2 separate regions of the Homo sapiens genome follow, and region 2 is linked to region 1. A link means that fine-mapping ties the variant in region 1 to the expression of a gene that starts in the linked region. Tissue or cell type: esophagus muscle. Region 1 holds a variant in brackets; the other region holds the start of a gene. All regions are shown on one strand. Distances are between the middles of the regions.

The links. PIP is the estimated chance that this variant, and not a neighbour inherited with it, causes the effect.
Region 2: it holds the start of LHCGR, and the variant in region 1 is fine-mapped to the expression of LHCGR in esophagus muscle (GTEx, PIP above 0.99). The same link has a PIP of 0.9 or more in esophagus mucosa, gastroesophageal junction and thyroid.

Annotation. Positions count from the first base shown.
Region 1 is chr2:48,725,191-48,735,587 of GRCh38, reverse strand. The region is part of intron 10 of STON1-GTF2A1L (STON1-GTF2A1L readthrough); the gene reads right to left. LHCGR (luteinizing hormone/choriogonadotropin receptor) reads left to right here. Exons shown (of 11, transcript NM_000233.4): 2 at 4,290-4,361; 3 at 6,361-6,435; 4 at 9,838-9,912. Among named protein-coding and RNA genes, the nearest start is that of LHCGR, 25 kb to the left of the region's middle. The variant A/G (reference allele first, on the strand shown) is at 7,822.
Region 2 is chr2:48,750,544-48,760,940 of GRCh38, reverse strand. It overlaps LHCGR (luteinizing hormone/choriogonadotropin receptor), which reads left to right and starts at 5,217. Exons shown (of 11, transcript NM_000233.4): 1 at 5,217-5,430. The coding sequence starts at 5,270. All of the region lies in intron 10 of STON1-GTF2A1L (STON1-GTF2A1L readthrough), which reads right to left. RefSeq lists an enhancer at 4,883-5,659.

The sequences.
Region 1 (10,397 bases):
TAGCTTGACCCTAACCAGACAGCAACCAGGAACTGTTCTAGGGCAGCAGTGTTCCCTAAGGGGTAGAGATACAGGGATCAGGATCTGGTGATTGAGAAAAAGAGAAGGCAGGAACTAAGAGAAGCCCTACTCCTAGATGGATTCTGGGGAGACCAAGCAAGCTACAGAATAAGAAATCGAGACAAAAACAAACACCAGCATAGCATGTGGGAAGGCACTGCAGGTGCACTCCTGCCCCCAAATATTAATATTATTGGGTCCAGTTTAGACGATGCACAAGCCTCGCCAGAGTCATGACCAATCACAAGATCCCAGTACTAGGATGAATGACTTAATTCCAGCCCTAAGGAGGACAGACTGTTTCGATTTCAACTTTAACACACAACTAGAAGGGTTGGGGACCTGCAGATGAGATTAATGAGTAGATGGAAGTTCCAAGCTGATGAAGCTAACGCAGACTTTGTAATCCAATTGAAGCATTTGTTTCAACATCTGTGGCAAAGGCACTTGGGCAAGGTGCCACCTGCGTTGCCTCATCAATTTATTTAAAAACAAAAGTTCAAAACTGCAAAAAAGACTGTGAAAATATAATAAATTTAAGTAGCTGCATAGTTCTACAGCCATATTTTTCCACAGCCGTCTCACCTTTCAAGAGAGAATCTCCACCCTGCAAGTTCAACCTCATATTTTCCCAGTAACCCTAATTCTTTACCACCCATCTGAGGTGCATAGTTGTGGTGTATCACCCTCTTTTGCTGAGACAGAAAGGGCTCTGTCCTTCCTTTATTTTCTTTGCTTTATGCATAGCTTTCATTCCTTTTTTGACCCTGGACAGCAGAGCTGCTGAACTGTCCTTGCCTTAGGCATTTTTGCCCTCAGTTCTCCTTGGCTTCTGCTCTATATCAAATGATACCGACTAGACCTTTCCACAATAGTTCACAAAACTATTGGAATACAAGTATGCCTAACTCCAAAAAAATATGAAGGAAAGGAAAGGAAGGAGGGAAGAAGGGAGAGAGGAGGAAGGAGGAGGAAGAAAGGTAAGCAAGCAGGCTGCCAATACATCAAAATAAACCTTTTTTATTTTCCATTTGTCTCTCTAGTACAGAGGGTTAAGTTGGTCATATTTCTTCATTCAAGTAACATTATCACTAGTCCATTCAAAGTCCCTCTCTGTTTTTAGTTATTTATTTTATCTCCTTCTCCCACTTCTGTTCCTCTCAACTCACCTTAGATAACAATCCTAGTGTATGTTCATGTGCAGGAGGAGGTTAATGTCTAGTGTTTCGTTTACATATATTTTAATTCTGCAAACAGTATATTATATCTCCGTAATTTCTTGTTTCTCTCAGTTCCATGATTTGAAGATCCACCCATGCTACTCTGTGTGCCTTTAGACTCTCACTTCTACAGGCTCTCCTATTCAGTTAGGTGTGTACGGTCCAAATTTTACATACTCCCTCACCTAGTAATGGACACCCAGGTTGCCTCCAAGCCCCTGATGCCACAATGCTGTGAAGAAAACGTTTGTACAAGATTCCTTTAAGTATCAATTTGAGAATTTTTCTCAATGTATACAGGAGTGGAATTGCAGGGTTATTAAGATCATTGTTCACATTGCTAAAAGTTTCTGGCATCATGGAAAGAATCATAGATGCATCCAATAGAGAGTGGGACACCTTCAAAGGGAGTACATTCAAACAGTTATCAACAAATCATAAACTTTATTAATAAATTCTGGAGACAGATACTTGAATGCTTAGGAACTGCTACCCATCAAAGACGAATCAGAAATGAAGATGTGACATTTCTGAAAAAAAAAACATATAAGTCTGTAGGGAAAATGGTTTTCGATTCACAGGACCACATTCTCTGTGTTGCCTCATGGGAACACATCTGTTGTGAAAAGCACAGTGCACCTGCCTAACCCCACCTCTCTCCCCATTCCCTGGCCCCCAGGACTCTTTCTTGACCCAGCCATATCCACAAAGTCACCTGCTGTTCACTTGGTGTCTCTTTTATAGGGGAGGCTCTAGTTTCACTCTCCCCACTGCTGCCTTTCCTGCTCTGCAGCATCAACATCAACGCTGCAAAATTTCAGCTTGCACCAGGGCTGCTTCTGTAGCCACTGGAGACTGCCATTGCATGATCTACAGCTTCTTGCACTTCTGTCCGACCTTTGCTCCTCATCCCTCCTCCCTACATCAATCAAAAGCTCAGGCAACCTCCCTGATCAAATCTGAACCAAACTGCTCCTCTGGGAGTCACACCATGCTCCCATTTGGAGGAGGAGGCTGCCTGCTGAGAGACTTCAGCTTCTGGGCTCCATTTGCATGAATAAACAGCTCTGAAGTGTTCTGCTGAAGCTTTTATGTAAACACTCTCCAAAATATGTTCTGCACTGCATTATCCCCAGCAATAAAGATTCTGGAATCAGAATTTGGCTGTCAGTTTTATTGATGCTGCAAGGGGTACAGTGGAATACAGCTTTCTCTTCTGTAAATTTATTGGTTTGGCAGTGCAGAGAGCAATAAAACTGTGTTTTTAATCAGGAAGCCAAGCGAACATGATTCCAGAAGAAATATAGGAAGCAAATATGCCATCACAAGAAGATTTCTTCCCACACTGTCCCTGTTCTTCTCGGATCCTTTGTTAAATGAGTTTAGGTGTTAAACGATGTCCTTCTTGGGAATGCCTTCGGGAATAGAATCAGAGACCAAAGTTGGATTACTTTCTCTAGGTTATATCATTTCTAAGAGATTATTGAGTGAAAATATTTTTCTGAAATGAAATTTCCTCCCTATTAGCACCTAGGGAGGAACGGCTGGTAAACCGCTTTGCAGAAGAAATAGAGCGAATGTGACATGCTTCCTCTCAGGAGAAGCAAGGTTGCAATGTCTGTCCCTCCACCTTGCTCACCAAGACATGGGATTAAGAGTGACATGCTTTGGCCAGTATTGCACAGGGAAAGGATGTCTGGAGTCATTCTGCCTCGTTGTAACCTTGTTCAGGTTACTTAGTCTCTTTGTGACCCAATTTCTTCTGCTATGTAAGAGAAATTCCCACCTCACACCATTGTTGAGTGAGTAAAAGAAGGTCACAAATGGGTGTGTATAACTCACATAGTAGCTTACAACTGTAGCAAGTCCCTTCTGGGACTGTAAGAAATCTTACTTTCATCTGCCCATCATGGAGGTGTTCTTTCCTAGAAGCTTAAAGCAGTCTCTGCTGCATAGACATGTTAAAAACAAGACAGCATCTTTCACCTTTGTTCTCATATTCCTGATACTCACATACTCACTTCCCACCTGAAATATCCTTGCCCACTCCCTTCCTCTCTGCCAGTCCTTGGGCCAAAACATTAAACCATTGTAGATACTCAATAAATGTTGGCTGCATGTTCGTCCCTGCCTTGCAGTTGCTTTCTCCTGAGTTATCTTAACCTCCAGTTCCTTTAGCATTCACACATCATCCTATACTGGTTTTGCATTTCTGAGTGTCACTCTTTTCTCAAATCTTAAGTACAGCATAGATTTTATTTCAATTTCAAGAATATTTAGATTTTTCCTGTGGGTATAAGTGAATGCCTGAAGGAAATGATCTCATAGACATTCCCCGCAAATGACATGAGATGCCCATGTGAGTTAACCATAGGATCAAAGTTGTCTCTTTGGAATAATATTGAAATAGGCTACCTGGGAAAGACAGTAGAGATCAAGATGGGAGCATGTTCTTAATGAATCTTCTGTTTTCCTGCCTGCATGATTTCCAGTTGTATTTTCATCATTAATGTCTCCACTCTACTCAACATAGTTTTTGTCCATCTTCCCAATCAAGTCTATAGGATCACTCTACAACTATTTAACTATATACTTGGTGCCAAGCCCTGTTCTTTACATGGATTATCCTGATTAATTATCACAATGACCCTGTGAAGTAGGAATTATTATTGCAATTTTACAGACAAAGAAACTGAGCTGGAGGGCTTAAATAACATGCTTAGAATCACATAGCCAAGTAGTGGGACAGCGAAGATTTGCGTCCAGGTATGCCTAATCTCAACGTTCACAGTCTTAACCGCAAAATTATACACTCTTTGATAAAGACCAAGAATAAGTCATGGCACATCTCTTCATTGATTTAAGTTAGAATCCTCAGCCTGAATCCAGTTCTTGGGAACTCTGAAGTCTCTGTCTCTCACACACATACACATACCCATTTTATTCATGAACTTAAAAGGCACCCTATCATAAATCTTAAACTCTTGGATTTCCTTTTTTCTTTTCTAGATCACTTGCCTACCTCCCTGTCAAAGTGATCCCATCTCAAGCTTTCAGAGGACTTAATGAGGTCATAAAAATGTAAGTAAGTTACTGCATATCAAAAGACATTCGTAATTGGAATAATGAATTTTTTCTAAGAGAAAACACATTTGAAAGGGGATAATTTTTCTAGGAAAGAAATTGTGTTTAGGATACTCACATATTTTTATCTTTGTAATACAAATAATAACTAGAGACCTTTGAAGAAAAGGTATGATTTTTAAGAGTCATTAAAATACAGATAATTAACCTTGCTTCAAATGACTGAATGCATTTTATAAGTGATGATATACCTTTTAAGGAGAAAAAAAGATAGATTCCAATCATAAAAATTCTCCTTCTGCTAGAGCAGCTATTCCCTTGTGTCACATTTTTAGATAACACCCACATAGGAAAAAAAATGTGTTGGAAATTTATTGTGCATCAGAAGATAATCTTTATATCTAAAATATAAGTATATGACAAAAACACAGTATTTATAACTATATTGATGAAAGGCATTTATCAAAAGTGTAAAGCACCTGGATAATGCAGTATGATCTCATGTTTGTCAGACATAACTTCGATCATTTGTTTCTGGGTTTCAGCTTCTAGGACCAAAGTTCCCATACTTGGAGAGAGAATGTTCTCAAGGGCCCAGTATTCCAGCATCTTTCTTAATATTAGCCTGAGTCAAAGGACCTCATGGCCATTGAGTTCTCACAGTGCATCTCCAATCTTAACAATCCACTGGACTTTGGAAGCAGATTTGCATCTCTAAAGAAGATGCTACAGCATTGATCTTAGCTCCTTTGGGAACCTCTATTGCCCTTTAGGGTATTAGTAAGCAATTAGAATATTTAAAATAATTCCTCAAGAATTACTGCATATTATAGGAAATTCCCTGCAGGTTACGGACTTGTCGGTTTACTTGAGCTTAACCCACACTCTTCTGCTCTCAAGTTGGAATGTTGAGTTTTGATAACCTTTAATGCATTAAGACCTCCTACTGAGAAAAGGAGCTACAGTTAAATAAGCAAACCAATAGGTAGGAATAAGATGAATCAGCCAAGAATAATCCATTCCTGTGTTGTTAAGAAAAGACATTAGCTACCTTAGGCTCTGCCTTTCTGTGGGCTAATGCTCTCATCAGTCTGAAGCCTTCAGTGAGCCTTAACCTTAGAAATAAGCAAATGTACAGTTTGTGAATTTGAGACTTTTTTTTCAACTGGCAGGAAATGGTAGCGTATGTTGGGATTTTAGGGTAACATTGGCATGACTTACATGCTTGCGAATCATATATGACAAAACTGGTTTCTTTATTTTTGTATTGTTTTCAAAAAATTCAATTATTCACTACTGCATTCACTTATTCATTCATTTTGTACTCTTAACGCTGTGCCAAGCAACATGAAGCCACCAAGGATTCAGAAGTGAATAGAATATACTCTTTGTCCTCAGTTTGCTCACAAGTGAGAAAAACAGTCAAGGAAGTAGGTAATTGTAATTCAGGATGGATACCATGTGCAGGAGTTGACCACCTTGCAACGGCCTCAGCACGAGATTTTGGGAAACTAAGGGTTAAGAGTTATGAAACAATTCAATCCATATTAAAGCCTCACTAGAGTGACAGAATTGGGACCCAGAGATCCATATCCTAGTCTTGAACCTTAATACAAATACTATTTGCCTCTCCTCTCAGGGCCTTAATTTCCAGAGCTGTAAAACAAGGGAATCTGACTAGATTTTCTCAAAGGGCCTATGCAATTCTAACAATCTGTGGCTCTGAGTCAGAGATAAATAAGAGAAAAACTTGTCACATAAACAGGGGCTACTAAAACTTGCATTTCAACTGCACTTGGGTTGTAGGTGCCCATCAGTGCTCCTAAAGGGAGATGTTAGCACTGTATGATTTGGGGACAACTTGCACATCTTTGTTCTTTTCAGGGGGACACAGTGGTGTCCCCAGTTGTTGGGTCACACACATAGCTCATAATCATGCAGACACGGTCATTTCTTTCATGTTTCTTTCTCTTTTTCCCCCTCCTCTCTTCCCTAGTGAAATCTCTCAGATTGATTCCCTGGAAAGGATAGAAGCTAATGCCTTTGACAACCTCCTCAATTTGTCTGAAATGTAAGCATCAGCTAACAGACAGTTTACTGCTGTACACTATTACCCTCACTGGCTGGAGCCCACTTGGTATTTGTATTCAAGCATCCACTGCTAGGAATCCAAAAGGAAAAGACTACAGCAATTACTAGGTCTGGGCAGGCACTAATTTTTCTCACTGCAGTGGCCTGTAGGTTGCTATGGTGACAACTGCTTCTCCCTGGGAGCTGTATAAACTCTGAAACATCACAACACAAAGATAGAAATTAAAATTGACATTATGAACTCCTGCCAAGTAGCTCTTGCCTATGGAGGGTATGGAGTACTTGGGATAGTGGGAAAATTTGGAAAAGAGCTTAGAGATCATAAATTGGTTCATTGGGGGCTGTTTTGGCACATTCACTCATTCAGTGAATGTTTCTTGAATACCTACAGTGTAAAAGCTGTGTGATAGGCATGTGTGTGTTGGGTTTGTTGGGTTTTGTTGTTGTTATTGTGATGTTTTGGAATTAACTCTTAGAAACAACCCTTGCCAAAGTATCATTTCCCCAAAAAATCACAAAAAGGATAGGAAAAGACTGGTTCAATTCAGTTTTCAAGTGATGAATCTGTGGCCTGAAGAGGTTAACCTATTTGCCTGACATCACACCGCAAGTTAGTGCCAGAGCTGAAATTAGAAATCAATGCATGTGACTTCTACACCAGGCCCCCTACTGCTGCTTTTACTCAGGCGCAAACCTGAGTTTCCAGAAGAGCACTCAAACTTTACCTACTTTGGAGTTTCAAAAGTTAGGGAAGGGGAAAAGTATTAGCATCAAACATTTTTTGAGCTCTGTGCTTGGCATTTCTTCTATGTTGTGTCATTTAATCCTCACAGCTACCATGCAGAGTGGGGGTAATTATCCCTTTCGTCCAGGGGAAGGAATGGAGGCTTGGAAAGGCACAGAAACTTGACCGATGTGACACTTCAGACCAGGGGTATCCAATCTTTTGGCTTCCCTAGGCCACACTGGAAAAAGAATTGTCTTGGGTCACACATAAAATACACTTACACTAACAATAGCTGATGAGTTTAAAAAAAAAAAAAAACTCATAATGTTTTAAGAAAGTTTACAAACTTCTATTGGGTCGCATTCAAAGCCATCCTGGGCCACATGTGGCATGCAGACTGTGGGTTGGACAAGCTTGCTTTAGACCATGGCAGGACTGGGGTTCAATCCCAGACTGTCTTTCTTCAAAGCTCCAGATTTTCCACTATACCACAGGGTCCCCCTATAAATGACCCAATGAATAATTACCTGAAGAGAATAATTAATTGGTAAGTACGTGAGCAACTACCATGTGTCCAATACAGGGCCAAATGCTGTTGGAATACAGAAGAGATAAAATATAAATGTCCACCATGAGATG[A/G]CAGTGTAGCCAGGGAAGTGAGACTACTCACCAATTACAGAGAAATCCAAAATAATGAGTAAGTGCAAAAGACATAGTCTGGACTTAGCTGAGAAGCAGAATCACACATTGGGCTCATTACAATTACAGACGACAGTCCTATCCCAGACCTGGAAAGCTGCAGTTTTAACAGACTTCCCAGGTAATGCTAAAACACAGCTTATATTGAGAACCACCAGGGCAGCTAATGATAAATAAAGCTTCCCGTGATGCAAAGCAACATTCATCAACAGAAAGAAACATAAAGCACTCTCAGGGAAAGTTTATGGATTCCCAAAGAAGGTCCTAAGACTAGCATGCTAGCTCCATGAAGGCTTTTTTTGCTTTGTTCACAGCTGTATTCCCAGCACATAGAACGATGCTTGCCACATGTAGGTGCCCAATAAATGTTTGTTAAATGAATGAATGACTGGGCTAAGGTCAGGCCCCAAAATTCTTTTATTAAATTTCTTTTAATCTTTTTTTTTTTATACAGGGTCTCACTGTGTTGCCCAGACCGACCTCAAATTCCTGGGCTCAAGTGATCCTCCCACCTCCTTGCCAAGTAGATGGGACTACAGATGCACGCCACCACACCCAGCCCAAAAGACCTTTAGAGATAAAAGTCCCTTCCATCCCACCCACATAAGGCTCTATATGGCCTATGATTGTTTGACTCAGTTGTTGTAGAAATAATTACAACAAAATATCACTCACATCTGAAGAATCAAAAGGGCTGAGAAGATGGAAACAGGCACAAGTGGTGGGTAACTGTAGTGTGGTGGAACAAGCACTAAACTGAGGGTCAGAAAAACTGGGTCACATCCAAGTTCTGCTACTTCTCAGCTGTGTGACCGAAGACAAATCATTCAACTTCCTAATTTCAGCAACTATTATAACTATTGTTAACACTGGTTGAGGCCTTACTGTGAACCAGACACATATATTTATTCCTCAAAAACAACACTATAAGGAAACCAAGACACAGAGAACTTAAAGTGATATATCTAAGGTCATACGATTAGTAAAATCAGAATGAAAAACCAAGTTGACTCCAGAGCCCATGCTCCTAACCAATATACTACATTCTCTCTATAGAACAAGGTAATTATTATTTCCTCAGGTGGCTGTCACCTGGATTAAGAAACCCAAAGGCATTTACTGGCCTTTTATTTAATACAAAGTAGACAGGACTTAGCAATGGTGACTACTTTTTGTAGAGTCACAGTAATTAGGGGAATGAGGGAGTTGGGCGGGGAGGGCAATAACATCACAGTGGTGTATGGCTGTACTTTTATACTTTGCCAAACCCTGCCTCATATTATCTCTACCTGTTCTATTACTTAAAACCTACTAACCTGTGAGGCAGGAAGACTATGTAATATTATTATACAAATTTTACAGAAGAGACACTAGCTCAGGGAAGTTAGGAGGCTGGACATCATGACACAGCAAATTATCTTCAGCATGAGTATAAAATCCCCCAAATTCAAGCCTCTGGCTTTTGCCCTGTGCCATTCCACAGACTGGTGCCCCTCGGTATAACTGCTCATGTGATTGCCGGCCAATATGAAGAGGACGAGTTTGCTTACAAGGGAGAGTAGGTAATTTGCTCATCTCTCCTGAGAGGAGTCTCTCATCACCCTCAGTGTACAGGGTCCACAGTGGGGCAGAATCTGCTTGGCCAGGAGCCCTGGATGTCGGTGCTGTCTGTGGTGGGGGAGAGGGGTGGGAGGGTGCAGAGACAGACTCCCTGCTCTGATCCTTATACCCACCTCTTTAGAAGCTTGAGAGCAGTGCTTCCTGGAAATAGGGAACTGGCTCTCACCAAGCCATTTCCATCCCCAGAGTCGCTAGGGGTCCTCCCAAGCATATGAAGGTCGCCTGCTTTTGCTGATGCCATTTTCAGCCAGCAACTTCTGGTGACCATGATCTCACACATTTCAAACAATACACATCTATTAAACAGCAGCTTTTTTTTTCCCTCTCTCTTTACAGACTGATCCAGAACACCAAAAATCTGAGATACATTGAGCCCGGAGCATTTATAAATCTTCCCCGATTAAAATACTTGTGAGAAATTTTCCTTTTTAAGCAATTGGGGAGGGGAAGATGGGCATCTGATGAAAATCAAAACAAGGAAAAGGTTGGAAAGATTTTGTTTAACCATATACATGGCACTATTTGCATGTTCCTCTTCAGCCTTCTGATTTAAATTTAATTGTCATTTCTTGTCAGCCACCGAGCTGGGTGCTTTTACATACATGTAAGTGGTTCCCAACATTTTATCAGTCCTAAACACCTGGGAAGAACGTCACCCCTCTGTAGTGATTTTCAAGGTTGACAATGGGTATGGGAGATGGAGGTCATAACACTTTAAAAAGGGTAAATCAGAATCTCTGAAGTGAATAGAGAGTAGGTGAAAGTGAGAGTGGCAATTCTGGTCTGACTCTCATCACGGGTTAAGAGTTTCTGATCTCCTTTATCTCATTTTTTTCATTTGTTCATTAAATGAAAACTTTTTAAGTATTGCCTTAAGGTAGACACTGTGCCATATA
Region 2 (10,397 bases), 25 kb before region 1:
TGCAAGGGATCTAAGTTGCATGCTCCTTATGAGAACATAATGCCTGATGATCTGAGATGAAAGAATTTCAACATGAAACCAGCCACCCACACCATCCGTGGAAAAACTGTCTTCCACAAAACCAGTCCCTGGTGCCAAAAAGGTTGGGGAAAGCTGCTGTAGCACACACTTTAATTAATTCGACACTGATTTTAAACAATCAAATCTTGTTTCTTTGTTGATTTATATCATCATTTCAGAAAACTTTCTCACTTTCCTTGTGTTGCCTCTGTCTAATATTTTAGCTTGAAGTTTAATTGCTAAACCAAGTTTTCAGTAAGAGGCCTTCCCTAAAAGAAAAATGATGTTAGGTAAATTATGTAACAAAATGCAGTTTCTCTACAAAGAGGAATAACGTGATTCTACTACACTACTTCTTTGTGCACTCATTCATTTGTTCATTCACTCATTTGACTTGTTTATTCCTAGAAGTACGATGATAAAGGCTGTCAATGCAAAGGAGAAAAATTCACTATGACTATAATGAGTCCTGTGACAGAGATAAGAATAGAAAAGCCCTATTTCTCTCCTAACTGGGAAGGGATGAGGGAAGTTGGCAGGTTAAATAAAGTTCACAGCAAGGCTGATAGTAGAGATGAAGAATTTTGGTTGCAAGTGAGAGAGACTCAACTCCAACTAGACTAAGCAGGAGGGGAGTGTGTTAGCTCATTACTTAGGAAGTCCAAGGGTAGAGCTGGCCTCAGGCATGACCAGTTCCATGAAGTCAAAGGACATTAACAAGACTGCTTGCCCCCATCTATTTCTCATCTCTACTTTCCTCTAGTTGTTGCCAGCACAAACAGGCTTTTTCCATGAGACAAGAAGGACAGCAGCCCCTAATTCATTCACATCCTTCCAGCAACATGACCAAAAAGGCAAGGCCCCTTCTCCAACTCTCTCTCTCCATCAGCCTTAGAGTAGGATTCTCATGCCCCAGACCAATCATCACATTCCAATTACCAGCCCAGCTTCCTATCATCCTGCAGCTTCAAACTCCTGCTGAGGCCCACAAGAACCCCAGGGCTGTGTGGGAGGTGGCACAGATGATCGCAGCTCTGATTTTACATTATGTAGACAGTGAAATGGAGATGAAAATTCTAAACAAGCAATAAAGAATTTGCATGAAATTTTGGAGTGTAACTTTCATGGACTGTCTTTTTTATTCTCCTTATTTTGTTTTGTTTAGTTTTTTTACCCCAGGTAAAAAGGTGAACAGCTCAGAGATGTAACTGTATTTTTCTCTTCTTAAGCAATTTTTTCTTCCTCTGCCTACATTCACCTTTTCTTCCAAGGGAAAGGTAAAACCACTGCTTTTAAGTGAGAAGAAATACCAGTTATTATACTAACAGGGTATGTGTTCAATAATCAAAAAACCTTGCCTATTCTACTTAAGGTTTTAAAAATTACTTTGCTAATCCCATTACTGGGAATACCCAAAGGATTATGAATCGTTCTACTATAAAGACACATGCACATGTATGTTTATTGCAGCACTATTTACAAGAGCAAAGACTTGGAACCAACCCAAATGCCCATCAATGATAGACTGGATAAAGAAAATGTGGCTCATATACACCATGGAATACTATGCAGCCATAAAAAAGAGTTTATGTCCTTTGCAGGGACATGGATGAAGCTGGAAGCCATCATTCTCAGCAAGCTAACACAGGAACAGAAAACCAAACACCACATGTTCTCACTCATAAGTGGGAGTTGAACAATGAAAACACATGGACACAGGGAGGGGAACATCACACACTGGGGCCTGTTGGGGGATGGGGGGCAAGGGGAGGGAGAGCATTAGGACAAATACCTAATGCATGCGGGGTTTAAAACCTAGATGGCGGGTTGATAGGTGCAGCAAACCACCATGGCCCAGGTATGTCCATGTAACAAACCTGCACGTTCTGCACATGTATCCCAGAACTTAAAGTAAAAATTTTTTTAAAAATTACTTTGCTAATGTCTTTCAACTCCAATGTGTTAATGTAACTTCAGATGCTATTGAGTTTTGACCTAGGGTGGCATAAAGAAAATAGATTCCATGATTTTGCAACATGGCTCATTCCATAAATAAATAAATAAATTTCAGCAATATAACCAATTAAATAATTTTAGACATTTAAACACAGGTATACAGAATATACTATTTCTATGCTTATACATATCAAGGTTTCTTTTAAGATGCATCAAAATTATTAGGCTTCACTCAAAGTCCTTAATAAAGATTCTTGAGCTTTGTTTTCTTCAGGCAAATTTAATTCTAGGATTACCATTTTTGTATTCCTCAAATTGTGCTCTAGGACTACATGCATCAAAATTACACGAGAAAGCTTGTTAAAATGCAGATTATTGGACCCCACTCTATATCTATGGAATCAGAATCTCATAGGGAAAGTTCTAGGAATCTTCGTATTTAAAGCTTTGCAAATGGTATTTCTGCACCCTAAAATATGAGAAGCTCCATTCTAAAACTTTGGAGAGTTTTAATTGCAATTTCTGAGTTACGGTGTCAGTATGTTTTTCTATCTCTAAAGTAGGATAAAATATTTGTGAATTCTGTGAACTTTATTTTGTCATTAAAATGTAATCAGCAATCTTTGTGGGTCATGTTGGTTTGAAGTTCTCTGACAAAGTAGCTATAAGCATAGTTAATGAAACAAAGTCCTTTGGATTTAAAAATACTCACTCATAATGAGTATTAATGAATAAGATAGGTAAATTCCATTGTAACAAACTTTTGTGATTATAACAAATGAATCAATATGATTTTATTATAATAGTTACATTGCAAGAACTGATGTGATAATTAAGATCCAACTGAAATTAATCTAGATAGTAAAATTTTATGAAAACTCATTACAGTTGTTAGCTTTCTTCCAAACGAACAACCTCAACTCCTCATAAACAGGATTTTATTTCCAATCCAAGACAAGTTATAAGAAGTCAATATATACAATCCAATTCCTCCCACTAGCAATTCTGTAGGAGCTGCTTAGAAAGTCCTTGCATCTTTAGAGCCAGAAGAGCCTTAGGGATAGTGAACTTCAACCCTTCTTCTTACAGATGAAGAGACTGAAGGGCAAATCTCATGATTGACAGCAGAAACAGAAGGAAAATCCTAGTGTTCTGATTGCCTAGTCCTCCTACTGGAGTACAGAATTAAATGATTCTTCTGGAATATCCATTGTTTTCAAAGATTCAGGGGTGGGTGGGAGCAAACTTTTTTTATATATAACAGGTACACTACAGGGTTAAAAAAAGAAAAAAGTCACATAAAACATGAGACTTGAAAGAAAAGCCATTCAGGCACCTTGAGTTATTCATTCTTTCTCTCCTTCCATTCAAGATACATGGTGAAAACTTTTAAAAATCCCAGTGCCTACCCCAACTTCCCTACCAAAATCTGACAAAACTAAAAGAGAACAGAGAACATGACACCCAAAGTCGTCATGTATAATTACTTTTTACATATCCAGATAGATCCAGCGTGGTTGAGAATAAAGCAAGTGAGGGTATCAAGCTCTTCTCAGATAGTTTACTGAGCATCTACTACAAATCTGGGCCTCACTTATTCACTCTATTATTCAACAGACACATATGGAACACCTACTAGGAGCTAGAAGCTATGACATGCTCTGTTGATATTGAGATGAATAGAGAGGGGAAAGCAAAATTAAACCCACAATTACAGTGTGTTAGATTACCTGCTGTAGAACCAGGTGTTATGGCCACAACTACTCAACTAGGATGACTCAGAGAAGAATCAAAGTGGAAATGACATTGGGCTGAGTCTTGAAGGACAACTGGGAGTTTATCTAATGGAATAATGGAAAAAGAAGAGAAAATAGTGGGGACAGCCCATGCAGAGGTATTAAAGGGTGAGGAGTCATCTATAAGCAGTTGAAGAGAGGATCCAGAGAAGACAATATTATAGACATGAGCATTGTTTTTGTGCCATCTAGCACAATGTGGCCAAAGCCAAACAAGTTTTTAAAATAATAATAATCTACCCTCCTTGAGCAACAGACTGTAGAATGGTGAATGAAGGAGCCCATCCTTGAGAACTGGCTTCAGAGTGAAAGAAATCTATTCTTATATTTCCTCTCTTCAAAGCCTTAAATGCCTTCCCAGCTTTCAAAGTCCACCTCTTCCAGCAAAACTGCTAGGATTTCCAGAATCCAAACAGAATCCTTGGAAGGAAGAAATGATCAAATCAAAGAGGGGATATTATGGATCCCCATGATTACCGTAAAATTTTGTCTCCTAAGTTCTTTGGTATGTAGATCATAGCAGCTTTTTGCATTGGTGAGAGGTGGTAGGTGATAGACATGAGTTCCAGGTTTCACTACTTTAAAACCGTGTGACTTCAGGGAAGCCACATACCTCTTGGGACATTTTTCTCATCGCAAACACCCTGCTAGTTCAATGTGGAGCTTAAACATGATGTGAGGCAGAGCACCTGTTACAAGGTCTAGCCTATCCTGGGCCTTCTATGGGGCAGCTGCTACCAGTATTAGGCAGTTTCATTCATTCATTCAACAAATCTTTACTGAGGACTTACCATGTAGAAGCCAGAAGGAATACAAAAATAAATCTGAATTGGATTTTGCTCTCAAGGACCTCCCAATCTATAGAAGAGATACAGGACCAAGCCAAATAGCTATACCATAAATAAGAAAGCATTTACCACCAAGAGAAATTACTGGGGTAGTTGGGAGGATGGGCAAAGATTACTTGTAGAGTGGAGGGATTTGGTGAAAGAGAAGGGGAAAGGATTAGGGGTTGAGGATAAAAGAGAGGAAAAATGTCTGAGCCAGGCACTCTTACGCCTTCTGATGTGGGTATAGCGAGTATCCATCGGACCCTTTCACAAATGAAATAAAAGGGGTTCCGGGAAGCGTCACAACTCACTCAATTCAGAACTCCCCACCTCTAATCCAAAACATTTGCCATTAAATCTCTTTACCTCCTATAGCTAGGGCCATTTGCAGATGGTAGGGGACAAGACAGGGGAAAGTAGCAGGAAGGAGGTTATTGGGTCACTGGGCACTGTCGCAGGTCAAGGCAGAGCAGACTCAGCGGGGTGCGCGGTAAGAGGGGGAGGGCAGGGGCGGGCCGGCAGGGAAGGGTGTGTGGAAGGGCAGCCAAGGGGCGGGGAGAGGGGTGCGGGCCGCACTCAGAGGCCGTCCAAGACACTGGCAAGCCGCAGAAGCCCAGTTCGCCGGCCATGAAGCAGCGGTTCTCGGCGCTGCAGCTGCTGAAGCTGCTGCTGCTGCTGCAGCCGCCGCTGCCACGAGCGCTGCGCGAGGCGCTCTGCCCTGAGCCCTGCAACTGCGTGCCCGACGGCGCCCTGCGCTGCCCCGGCCCCACGGCCGGTCTCACTCGACTGTGAGTACACAGCGCTCCCGTCGCGGCGCCCTTGATGCAGGACCCTCCATCGCTCTATGCCACCTTCCCTCCCTACTCCTTTGGCCCCCTTTCCCTGGAAGCTTGGAGAAAAACGCTTTGCCCTATCAAATTTCCCCCACGTTTTAGGGTGATGAGAACCCAAAACTTGGTGGTTGTTTTTACCACCCCATGCCTCTGAGAGCCCCAGCCCCATTCTTTACCCCTGGTTGGGGCTGTGGCCGGGGGAGTAGAACTATTCAGGAACCTCAGGGGAAGGCCTGCTCTCTGCCGCTGCTTGAAGGGAATATGGGTGTGACGCTCCTCAACTCCTCTGGCAGGGGTCTCTGCCAGAGAAGTCTTACAGGCCTTTGAGCCTTGGGCCAGCCACGTCAGGGAAGGTGAATGTGAGCTCTGGCACCCTGTGGTCCTCTAGGAATGGAGTGCTCAGGCCCTATGGCCAAGGGTGACCTAATCTGTCAACTGACTGCTGGCAGTCACACGGGCATCTTAGTGAGCACACAAGCCGCTGCTCCACCGTGCCCAGATGTGCTTGAACTTCAGTCTCATGGTCTAATGGACCAAAGGCCCTGTGCCCTGCCGCTGGCACCCGCGCACCACCTCCACACTCACAGGCCTGATTGAGGGATTGTATACATCAGCAACCTGGGGGAGGGCGTTGTTTCTGGAGTAATGGGGTAAAGAGGAGAAGGGGAGCCTTTAGTACTAGACTATCAGGGTGTCATCAGGTCTCCTTTCTCCTATTTAGAAAAAAAAGTACCACATATTTTATAATACTATTTACATGAAATGTCCAGATAAACTGAAAGTAGATTAGTAGTTACCAGGGCTGGGGAAGCGGATGGGAGGGACAGTAGGTGACTACTAATCAGTGGGTATGGGCTTGGGGCGGGGGGGTGGTGAAATTTTTGTAAAATTAGATTGTAGAGACAGTTGCGTGTGAACATATTAAAAACAATTGCATTGTCCACTTTAAATTCTATAGTGTAGGATTTACATCTCAATACAGCTGTGAAAAGAGAAAAGGAAAGAAAAGAAAGGGAAAAAAAGACAAAAGACAAGAGTATCTAAAAGGCTGGTAGAGGTCTTGATCATGTCCTAACAATTAGAGATGATGGAATTCTGTGCTGGGGAAGGAAGGAGACCACCCCCTCTGCCATTTCCTTTGAGCCCCCAACAGTCTGTCACGGGCTGTTTCATAGAGGAGACTCACCCTCCCTGCCAGGCCAGGCTTCTTCATGTGGAAAAGTTAAAGGCCTTCTGGGAATAATTGTGGTTGAGAGATACAGTTAAAGGGTTGAGGGGTTTATATTAATTAGTTTCCATTAATTATCTTGTCAGGTCCATTCCCTGAAGGAATGGACCATGCTGATAGAATTTGTTTCAATCAATCCACAAATCCATGCAACAGGCCTTCCAAGTTCCAGCCCTGGTCCGTCCCTGACAAGCATGCCATGTTGCTCTTAAGAATGACTGTACTACTAACAGACTTTCTCACTTGCCTGCTACTTATCATACAGATTAGAAGAAACTGAGATCCAAGGAGAAGGAATAACTTGCTCAAGGTCTCACAGCTATTGAATAGCAATTCAGGATTTTATCTATTAATTATCTTTTTAAATTTGCTCATCTTTGTAAGAAAAACTACTGCTTTCTTAATAAAACACACACACACACACACACACACTCAGTTTCTCCAAAATTAGTACTGAGCAAAGAACTCCCACTGGGGGCATGAATGGGTGGGCCAAGTCCCAGTTCCTTTTCAATTCAGCTTTTCAGTAAGATCTCTCAAGGGCTCCTGCTGCCACGTGCTGTTCTCAGGAGGGGACCCCCTTCCCTGGAAAAGGCTGAAGTAAATTTTTTTTAAAAATCCCACTTTCTCCTGCTGCCTTTCAGCAGGGTTTCAAGAATCCTAGAACCCCTCAAAAATATCTGATAGGGCTGACTAGGTTTGGGGGTAGAGACCCTGAGCATCCACCACCAGGAACATCCTCTGCCAGTCATTTAGCCTCCTTAGCCAAGCGTGGTGACCCTCACAAGGTTTCATTTCCTGAGCACCAGATGGTTGAGAGATGCCCTCATCTTTCAAGAGATGCCCTTGTCACTCTGTGGAGGTTGAGCCTATGCAGGCCAAAACAGGGTAACTTTTGGCACAACATAGTGACACCAACATCCATATGACAAGAGAGGTGCATGTTAAGCAAAGGGAGGGTTGTTACTTCAAGGCAATATTTCTCAAAGTATGGTCTTAGCTCAGCAGTATGAACATCACCTGGGAAATGTTAGACTGCATATTCTCAGGCCTCAGCCCCAACCTACTGAATCAGAAACTCCAGGGGTGGGGTCCAGCAGGCTACAGATTAACAAGCTCCTCAGGTGATTCTGATGCATACTAAAGTTTGAGAACCAAGGCACAGCTCTCCAGGGAGGTATCATCTTAGAGAGGAAAAAGTATATTTTAAAAGTCCTTGTGCCATACACTTCCCTTCCCCACCCCCCCCCCCCCCCGCCAAAATCCGGCATAACACCTATTTATTGCAAAAAGGCATAAAATCAAAATCCTAAACCCAGAGGCAGACGGAAAATAAGCAGAATTGAGGGAAGTTTTTTTTTTCCTCAAAGAGGACTGCAGGAAGGAATCCATGGAGGACAGACTGAAGATACAGGGAATGAGGGAGGAATGTTAATTGTCAGATCTCAATGGGGGTAGGAGGAGAGCATCAGTCTAACAACATGGGGGAAAGATTAACCTTAGAAAGAATAAGAAGTTTTGAGTCCTGAGGTAAGAAGACCTATGGGTAAAGGAATAACTCAATATTAAGACAAAGGACAGGAAAAGTGGACAGGTTCATACTGAAATCCTCTTTTCTTGATGATGAATGCATGAAATGATAAACAGTAATTATGAGACAGAAAACTGCTATGATGGCAAGTTATCAGTTCATAAAAAAAAAAAAAAAGAAAGCTTAAATTATGAGGTAAGTCTTCCAGGAGGAGAGGATGTGGTCTTGCACTACATTATCATAGACTTTGCCTCTGCAGAGAGAAGGGGAGCACTCCAAGTTCTCAGGGTTGGAGGAGGCAAGTACTGCAGAGCACCTTAGGATTCAGCATTAGTCCCTCAATAGATGTTAATTTATGCTTTAGTCATTTGGGGTCCTAGTAACCTTACCTTCTAAGACCTCCATCCAAAGTTCACTATTTGGTTTAAGAAGAAGAAAAAAAACAAGGTACATGGATTATAGCTGCTTATCACTGACAAGCCTGCTGCTTACAAATTTTGAAAATGGCATCGTTCAAATTTTTCCTCCCCTTTCATATTTTATGAAAAACATAGGTATTTAAAATCTAAAATGTGATACAAAATATAACCTCCCACATTTCACTCACTTTAATTGGGGAAAAAATGAAAGAAAAAACTGATTTAAAAAATTTCCTTTCCTTTCTTATTAGTTCTAGGCAACTGGAAAGAGGAGAAAAAAATCTCACCTTGCCCATGGCTATATAAAGATCTTTGTCTCTATGACAACAGAAAGGTTGATCTGCTTGATATGGAAACAGCTTTTGAAAAATCTGTTAGTAAGAAAATGCTAATAATAATTATGGCAATTTATTTTTTGCATGTTGTACCTACTGAACAGAAATTAAACTTTTAGATTTTGTTGAAGACATAATCCAGAGGCCTTGGCAAGATATTGGCTTGGTACAAAAGTAATTGCCATTACTTTCAATGGCAAAAACCATGATTACTTTTGCACCAACCTAATGCAATGTTCATATCGATCCAGCATTACTCTTTCCTGACACCTTTCTTGAGTGTCTTCCTCTTCCTCTCACTTGCAGTGTAAATCAGGGTCCAAAACAGTGTTCAGTGCCGTAGTGTCTTTGAGAAGCCCACAATGTAAGTGGAAACACACCCCCAAGAGACTGGTATAGGTGTAGAGAGAAAGACAACAAGGCTCTAAGGAATTCACAGAATGAATTAATCACTATGAACTGAAGTCTCCAAGGGAAGGCTTCATGGGCCAAGTGTTAAGAAGCTGAACTGTGAAGAAGGAAAGAGGGGTCCTGGTGGAAGAACCACAGGTTAAAATCAACTAGAGATTCGTTGCTGAGAAGCAAGGAAGAAGGTTGAATAAATTCTTCCCAGGCTGGGGGGGAAATATTTCTTAAGAGAAGACATAAAGTTATTAGAGAGCTTTGATTACTCAGACGTTGTGCAAAAAGAAAAAAAAATCCCAATATGTAGTTATTGACTAATAAGCTTTCAATTAAAGCCATTATTTGATGATTGGTTGCAAAGGCATTAAGTAAAAACCATGATTAGGAGTCACTTCCCCATGAAGCCTTCCCTGATGCCCACTGCCCCACCCCCACTCCACCTCCATCTTCCCCATCCACATACTCACTTCAATATCCTGGGCTTACATATATTTTTGTACATATCTCACCATAATGCAGCCATTTGTTCAACATGTGCCTCTTCTGCCAGAGCAGGTTTCTAAATCTTAGCAATATTGACAATTGACAATTGGGGCCAGATAATTCTTTGTTATGGGAGCTGTTTTGAACCTTGTAGAATGTTTTCCAGCATCCCTGGCCAGGAGCGCTGCCTTCCCAAATTGTGACAACCAAAAGTATCTCTAGACATTTGGCAAATGACCCCCGGAGGGGGCAGGGGGAAATTCCTCCCCACCCCTTGGTTTTGAATCATTGTGCTAGAGTAAGAACCACCTGAAGAAATGTCATTCAACTCAGGGTTCCCAGAATTTCACATGTAGTATAATTAAAGTGTTACTGAGTTTCATGATTAAACTGAGATAGCTGAATAGGAACAATTAACTCATGCAGAAAAGAAGCATGTCTACATCAGCTAGCATGTATTACAGCTAAATGTCATTTTTTAAATCTCTGTTTTAGAAAATGGGGAAGTGAGAAAATGCTAT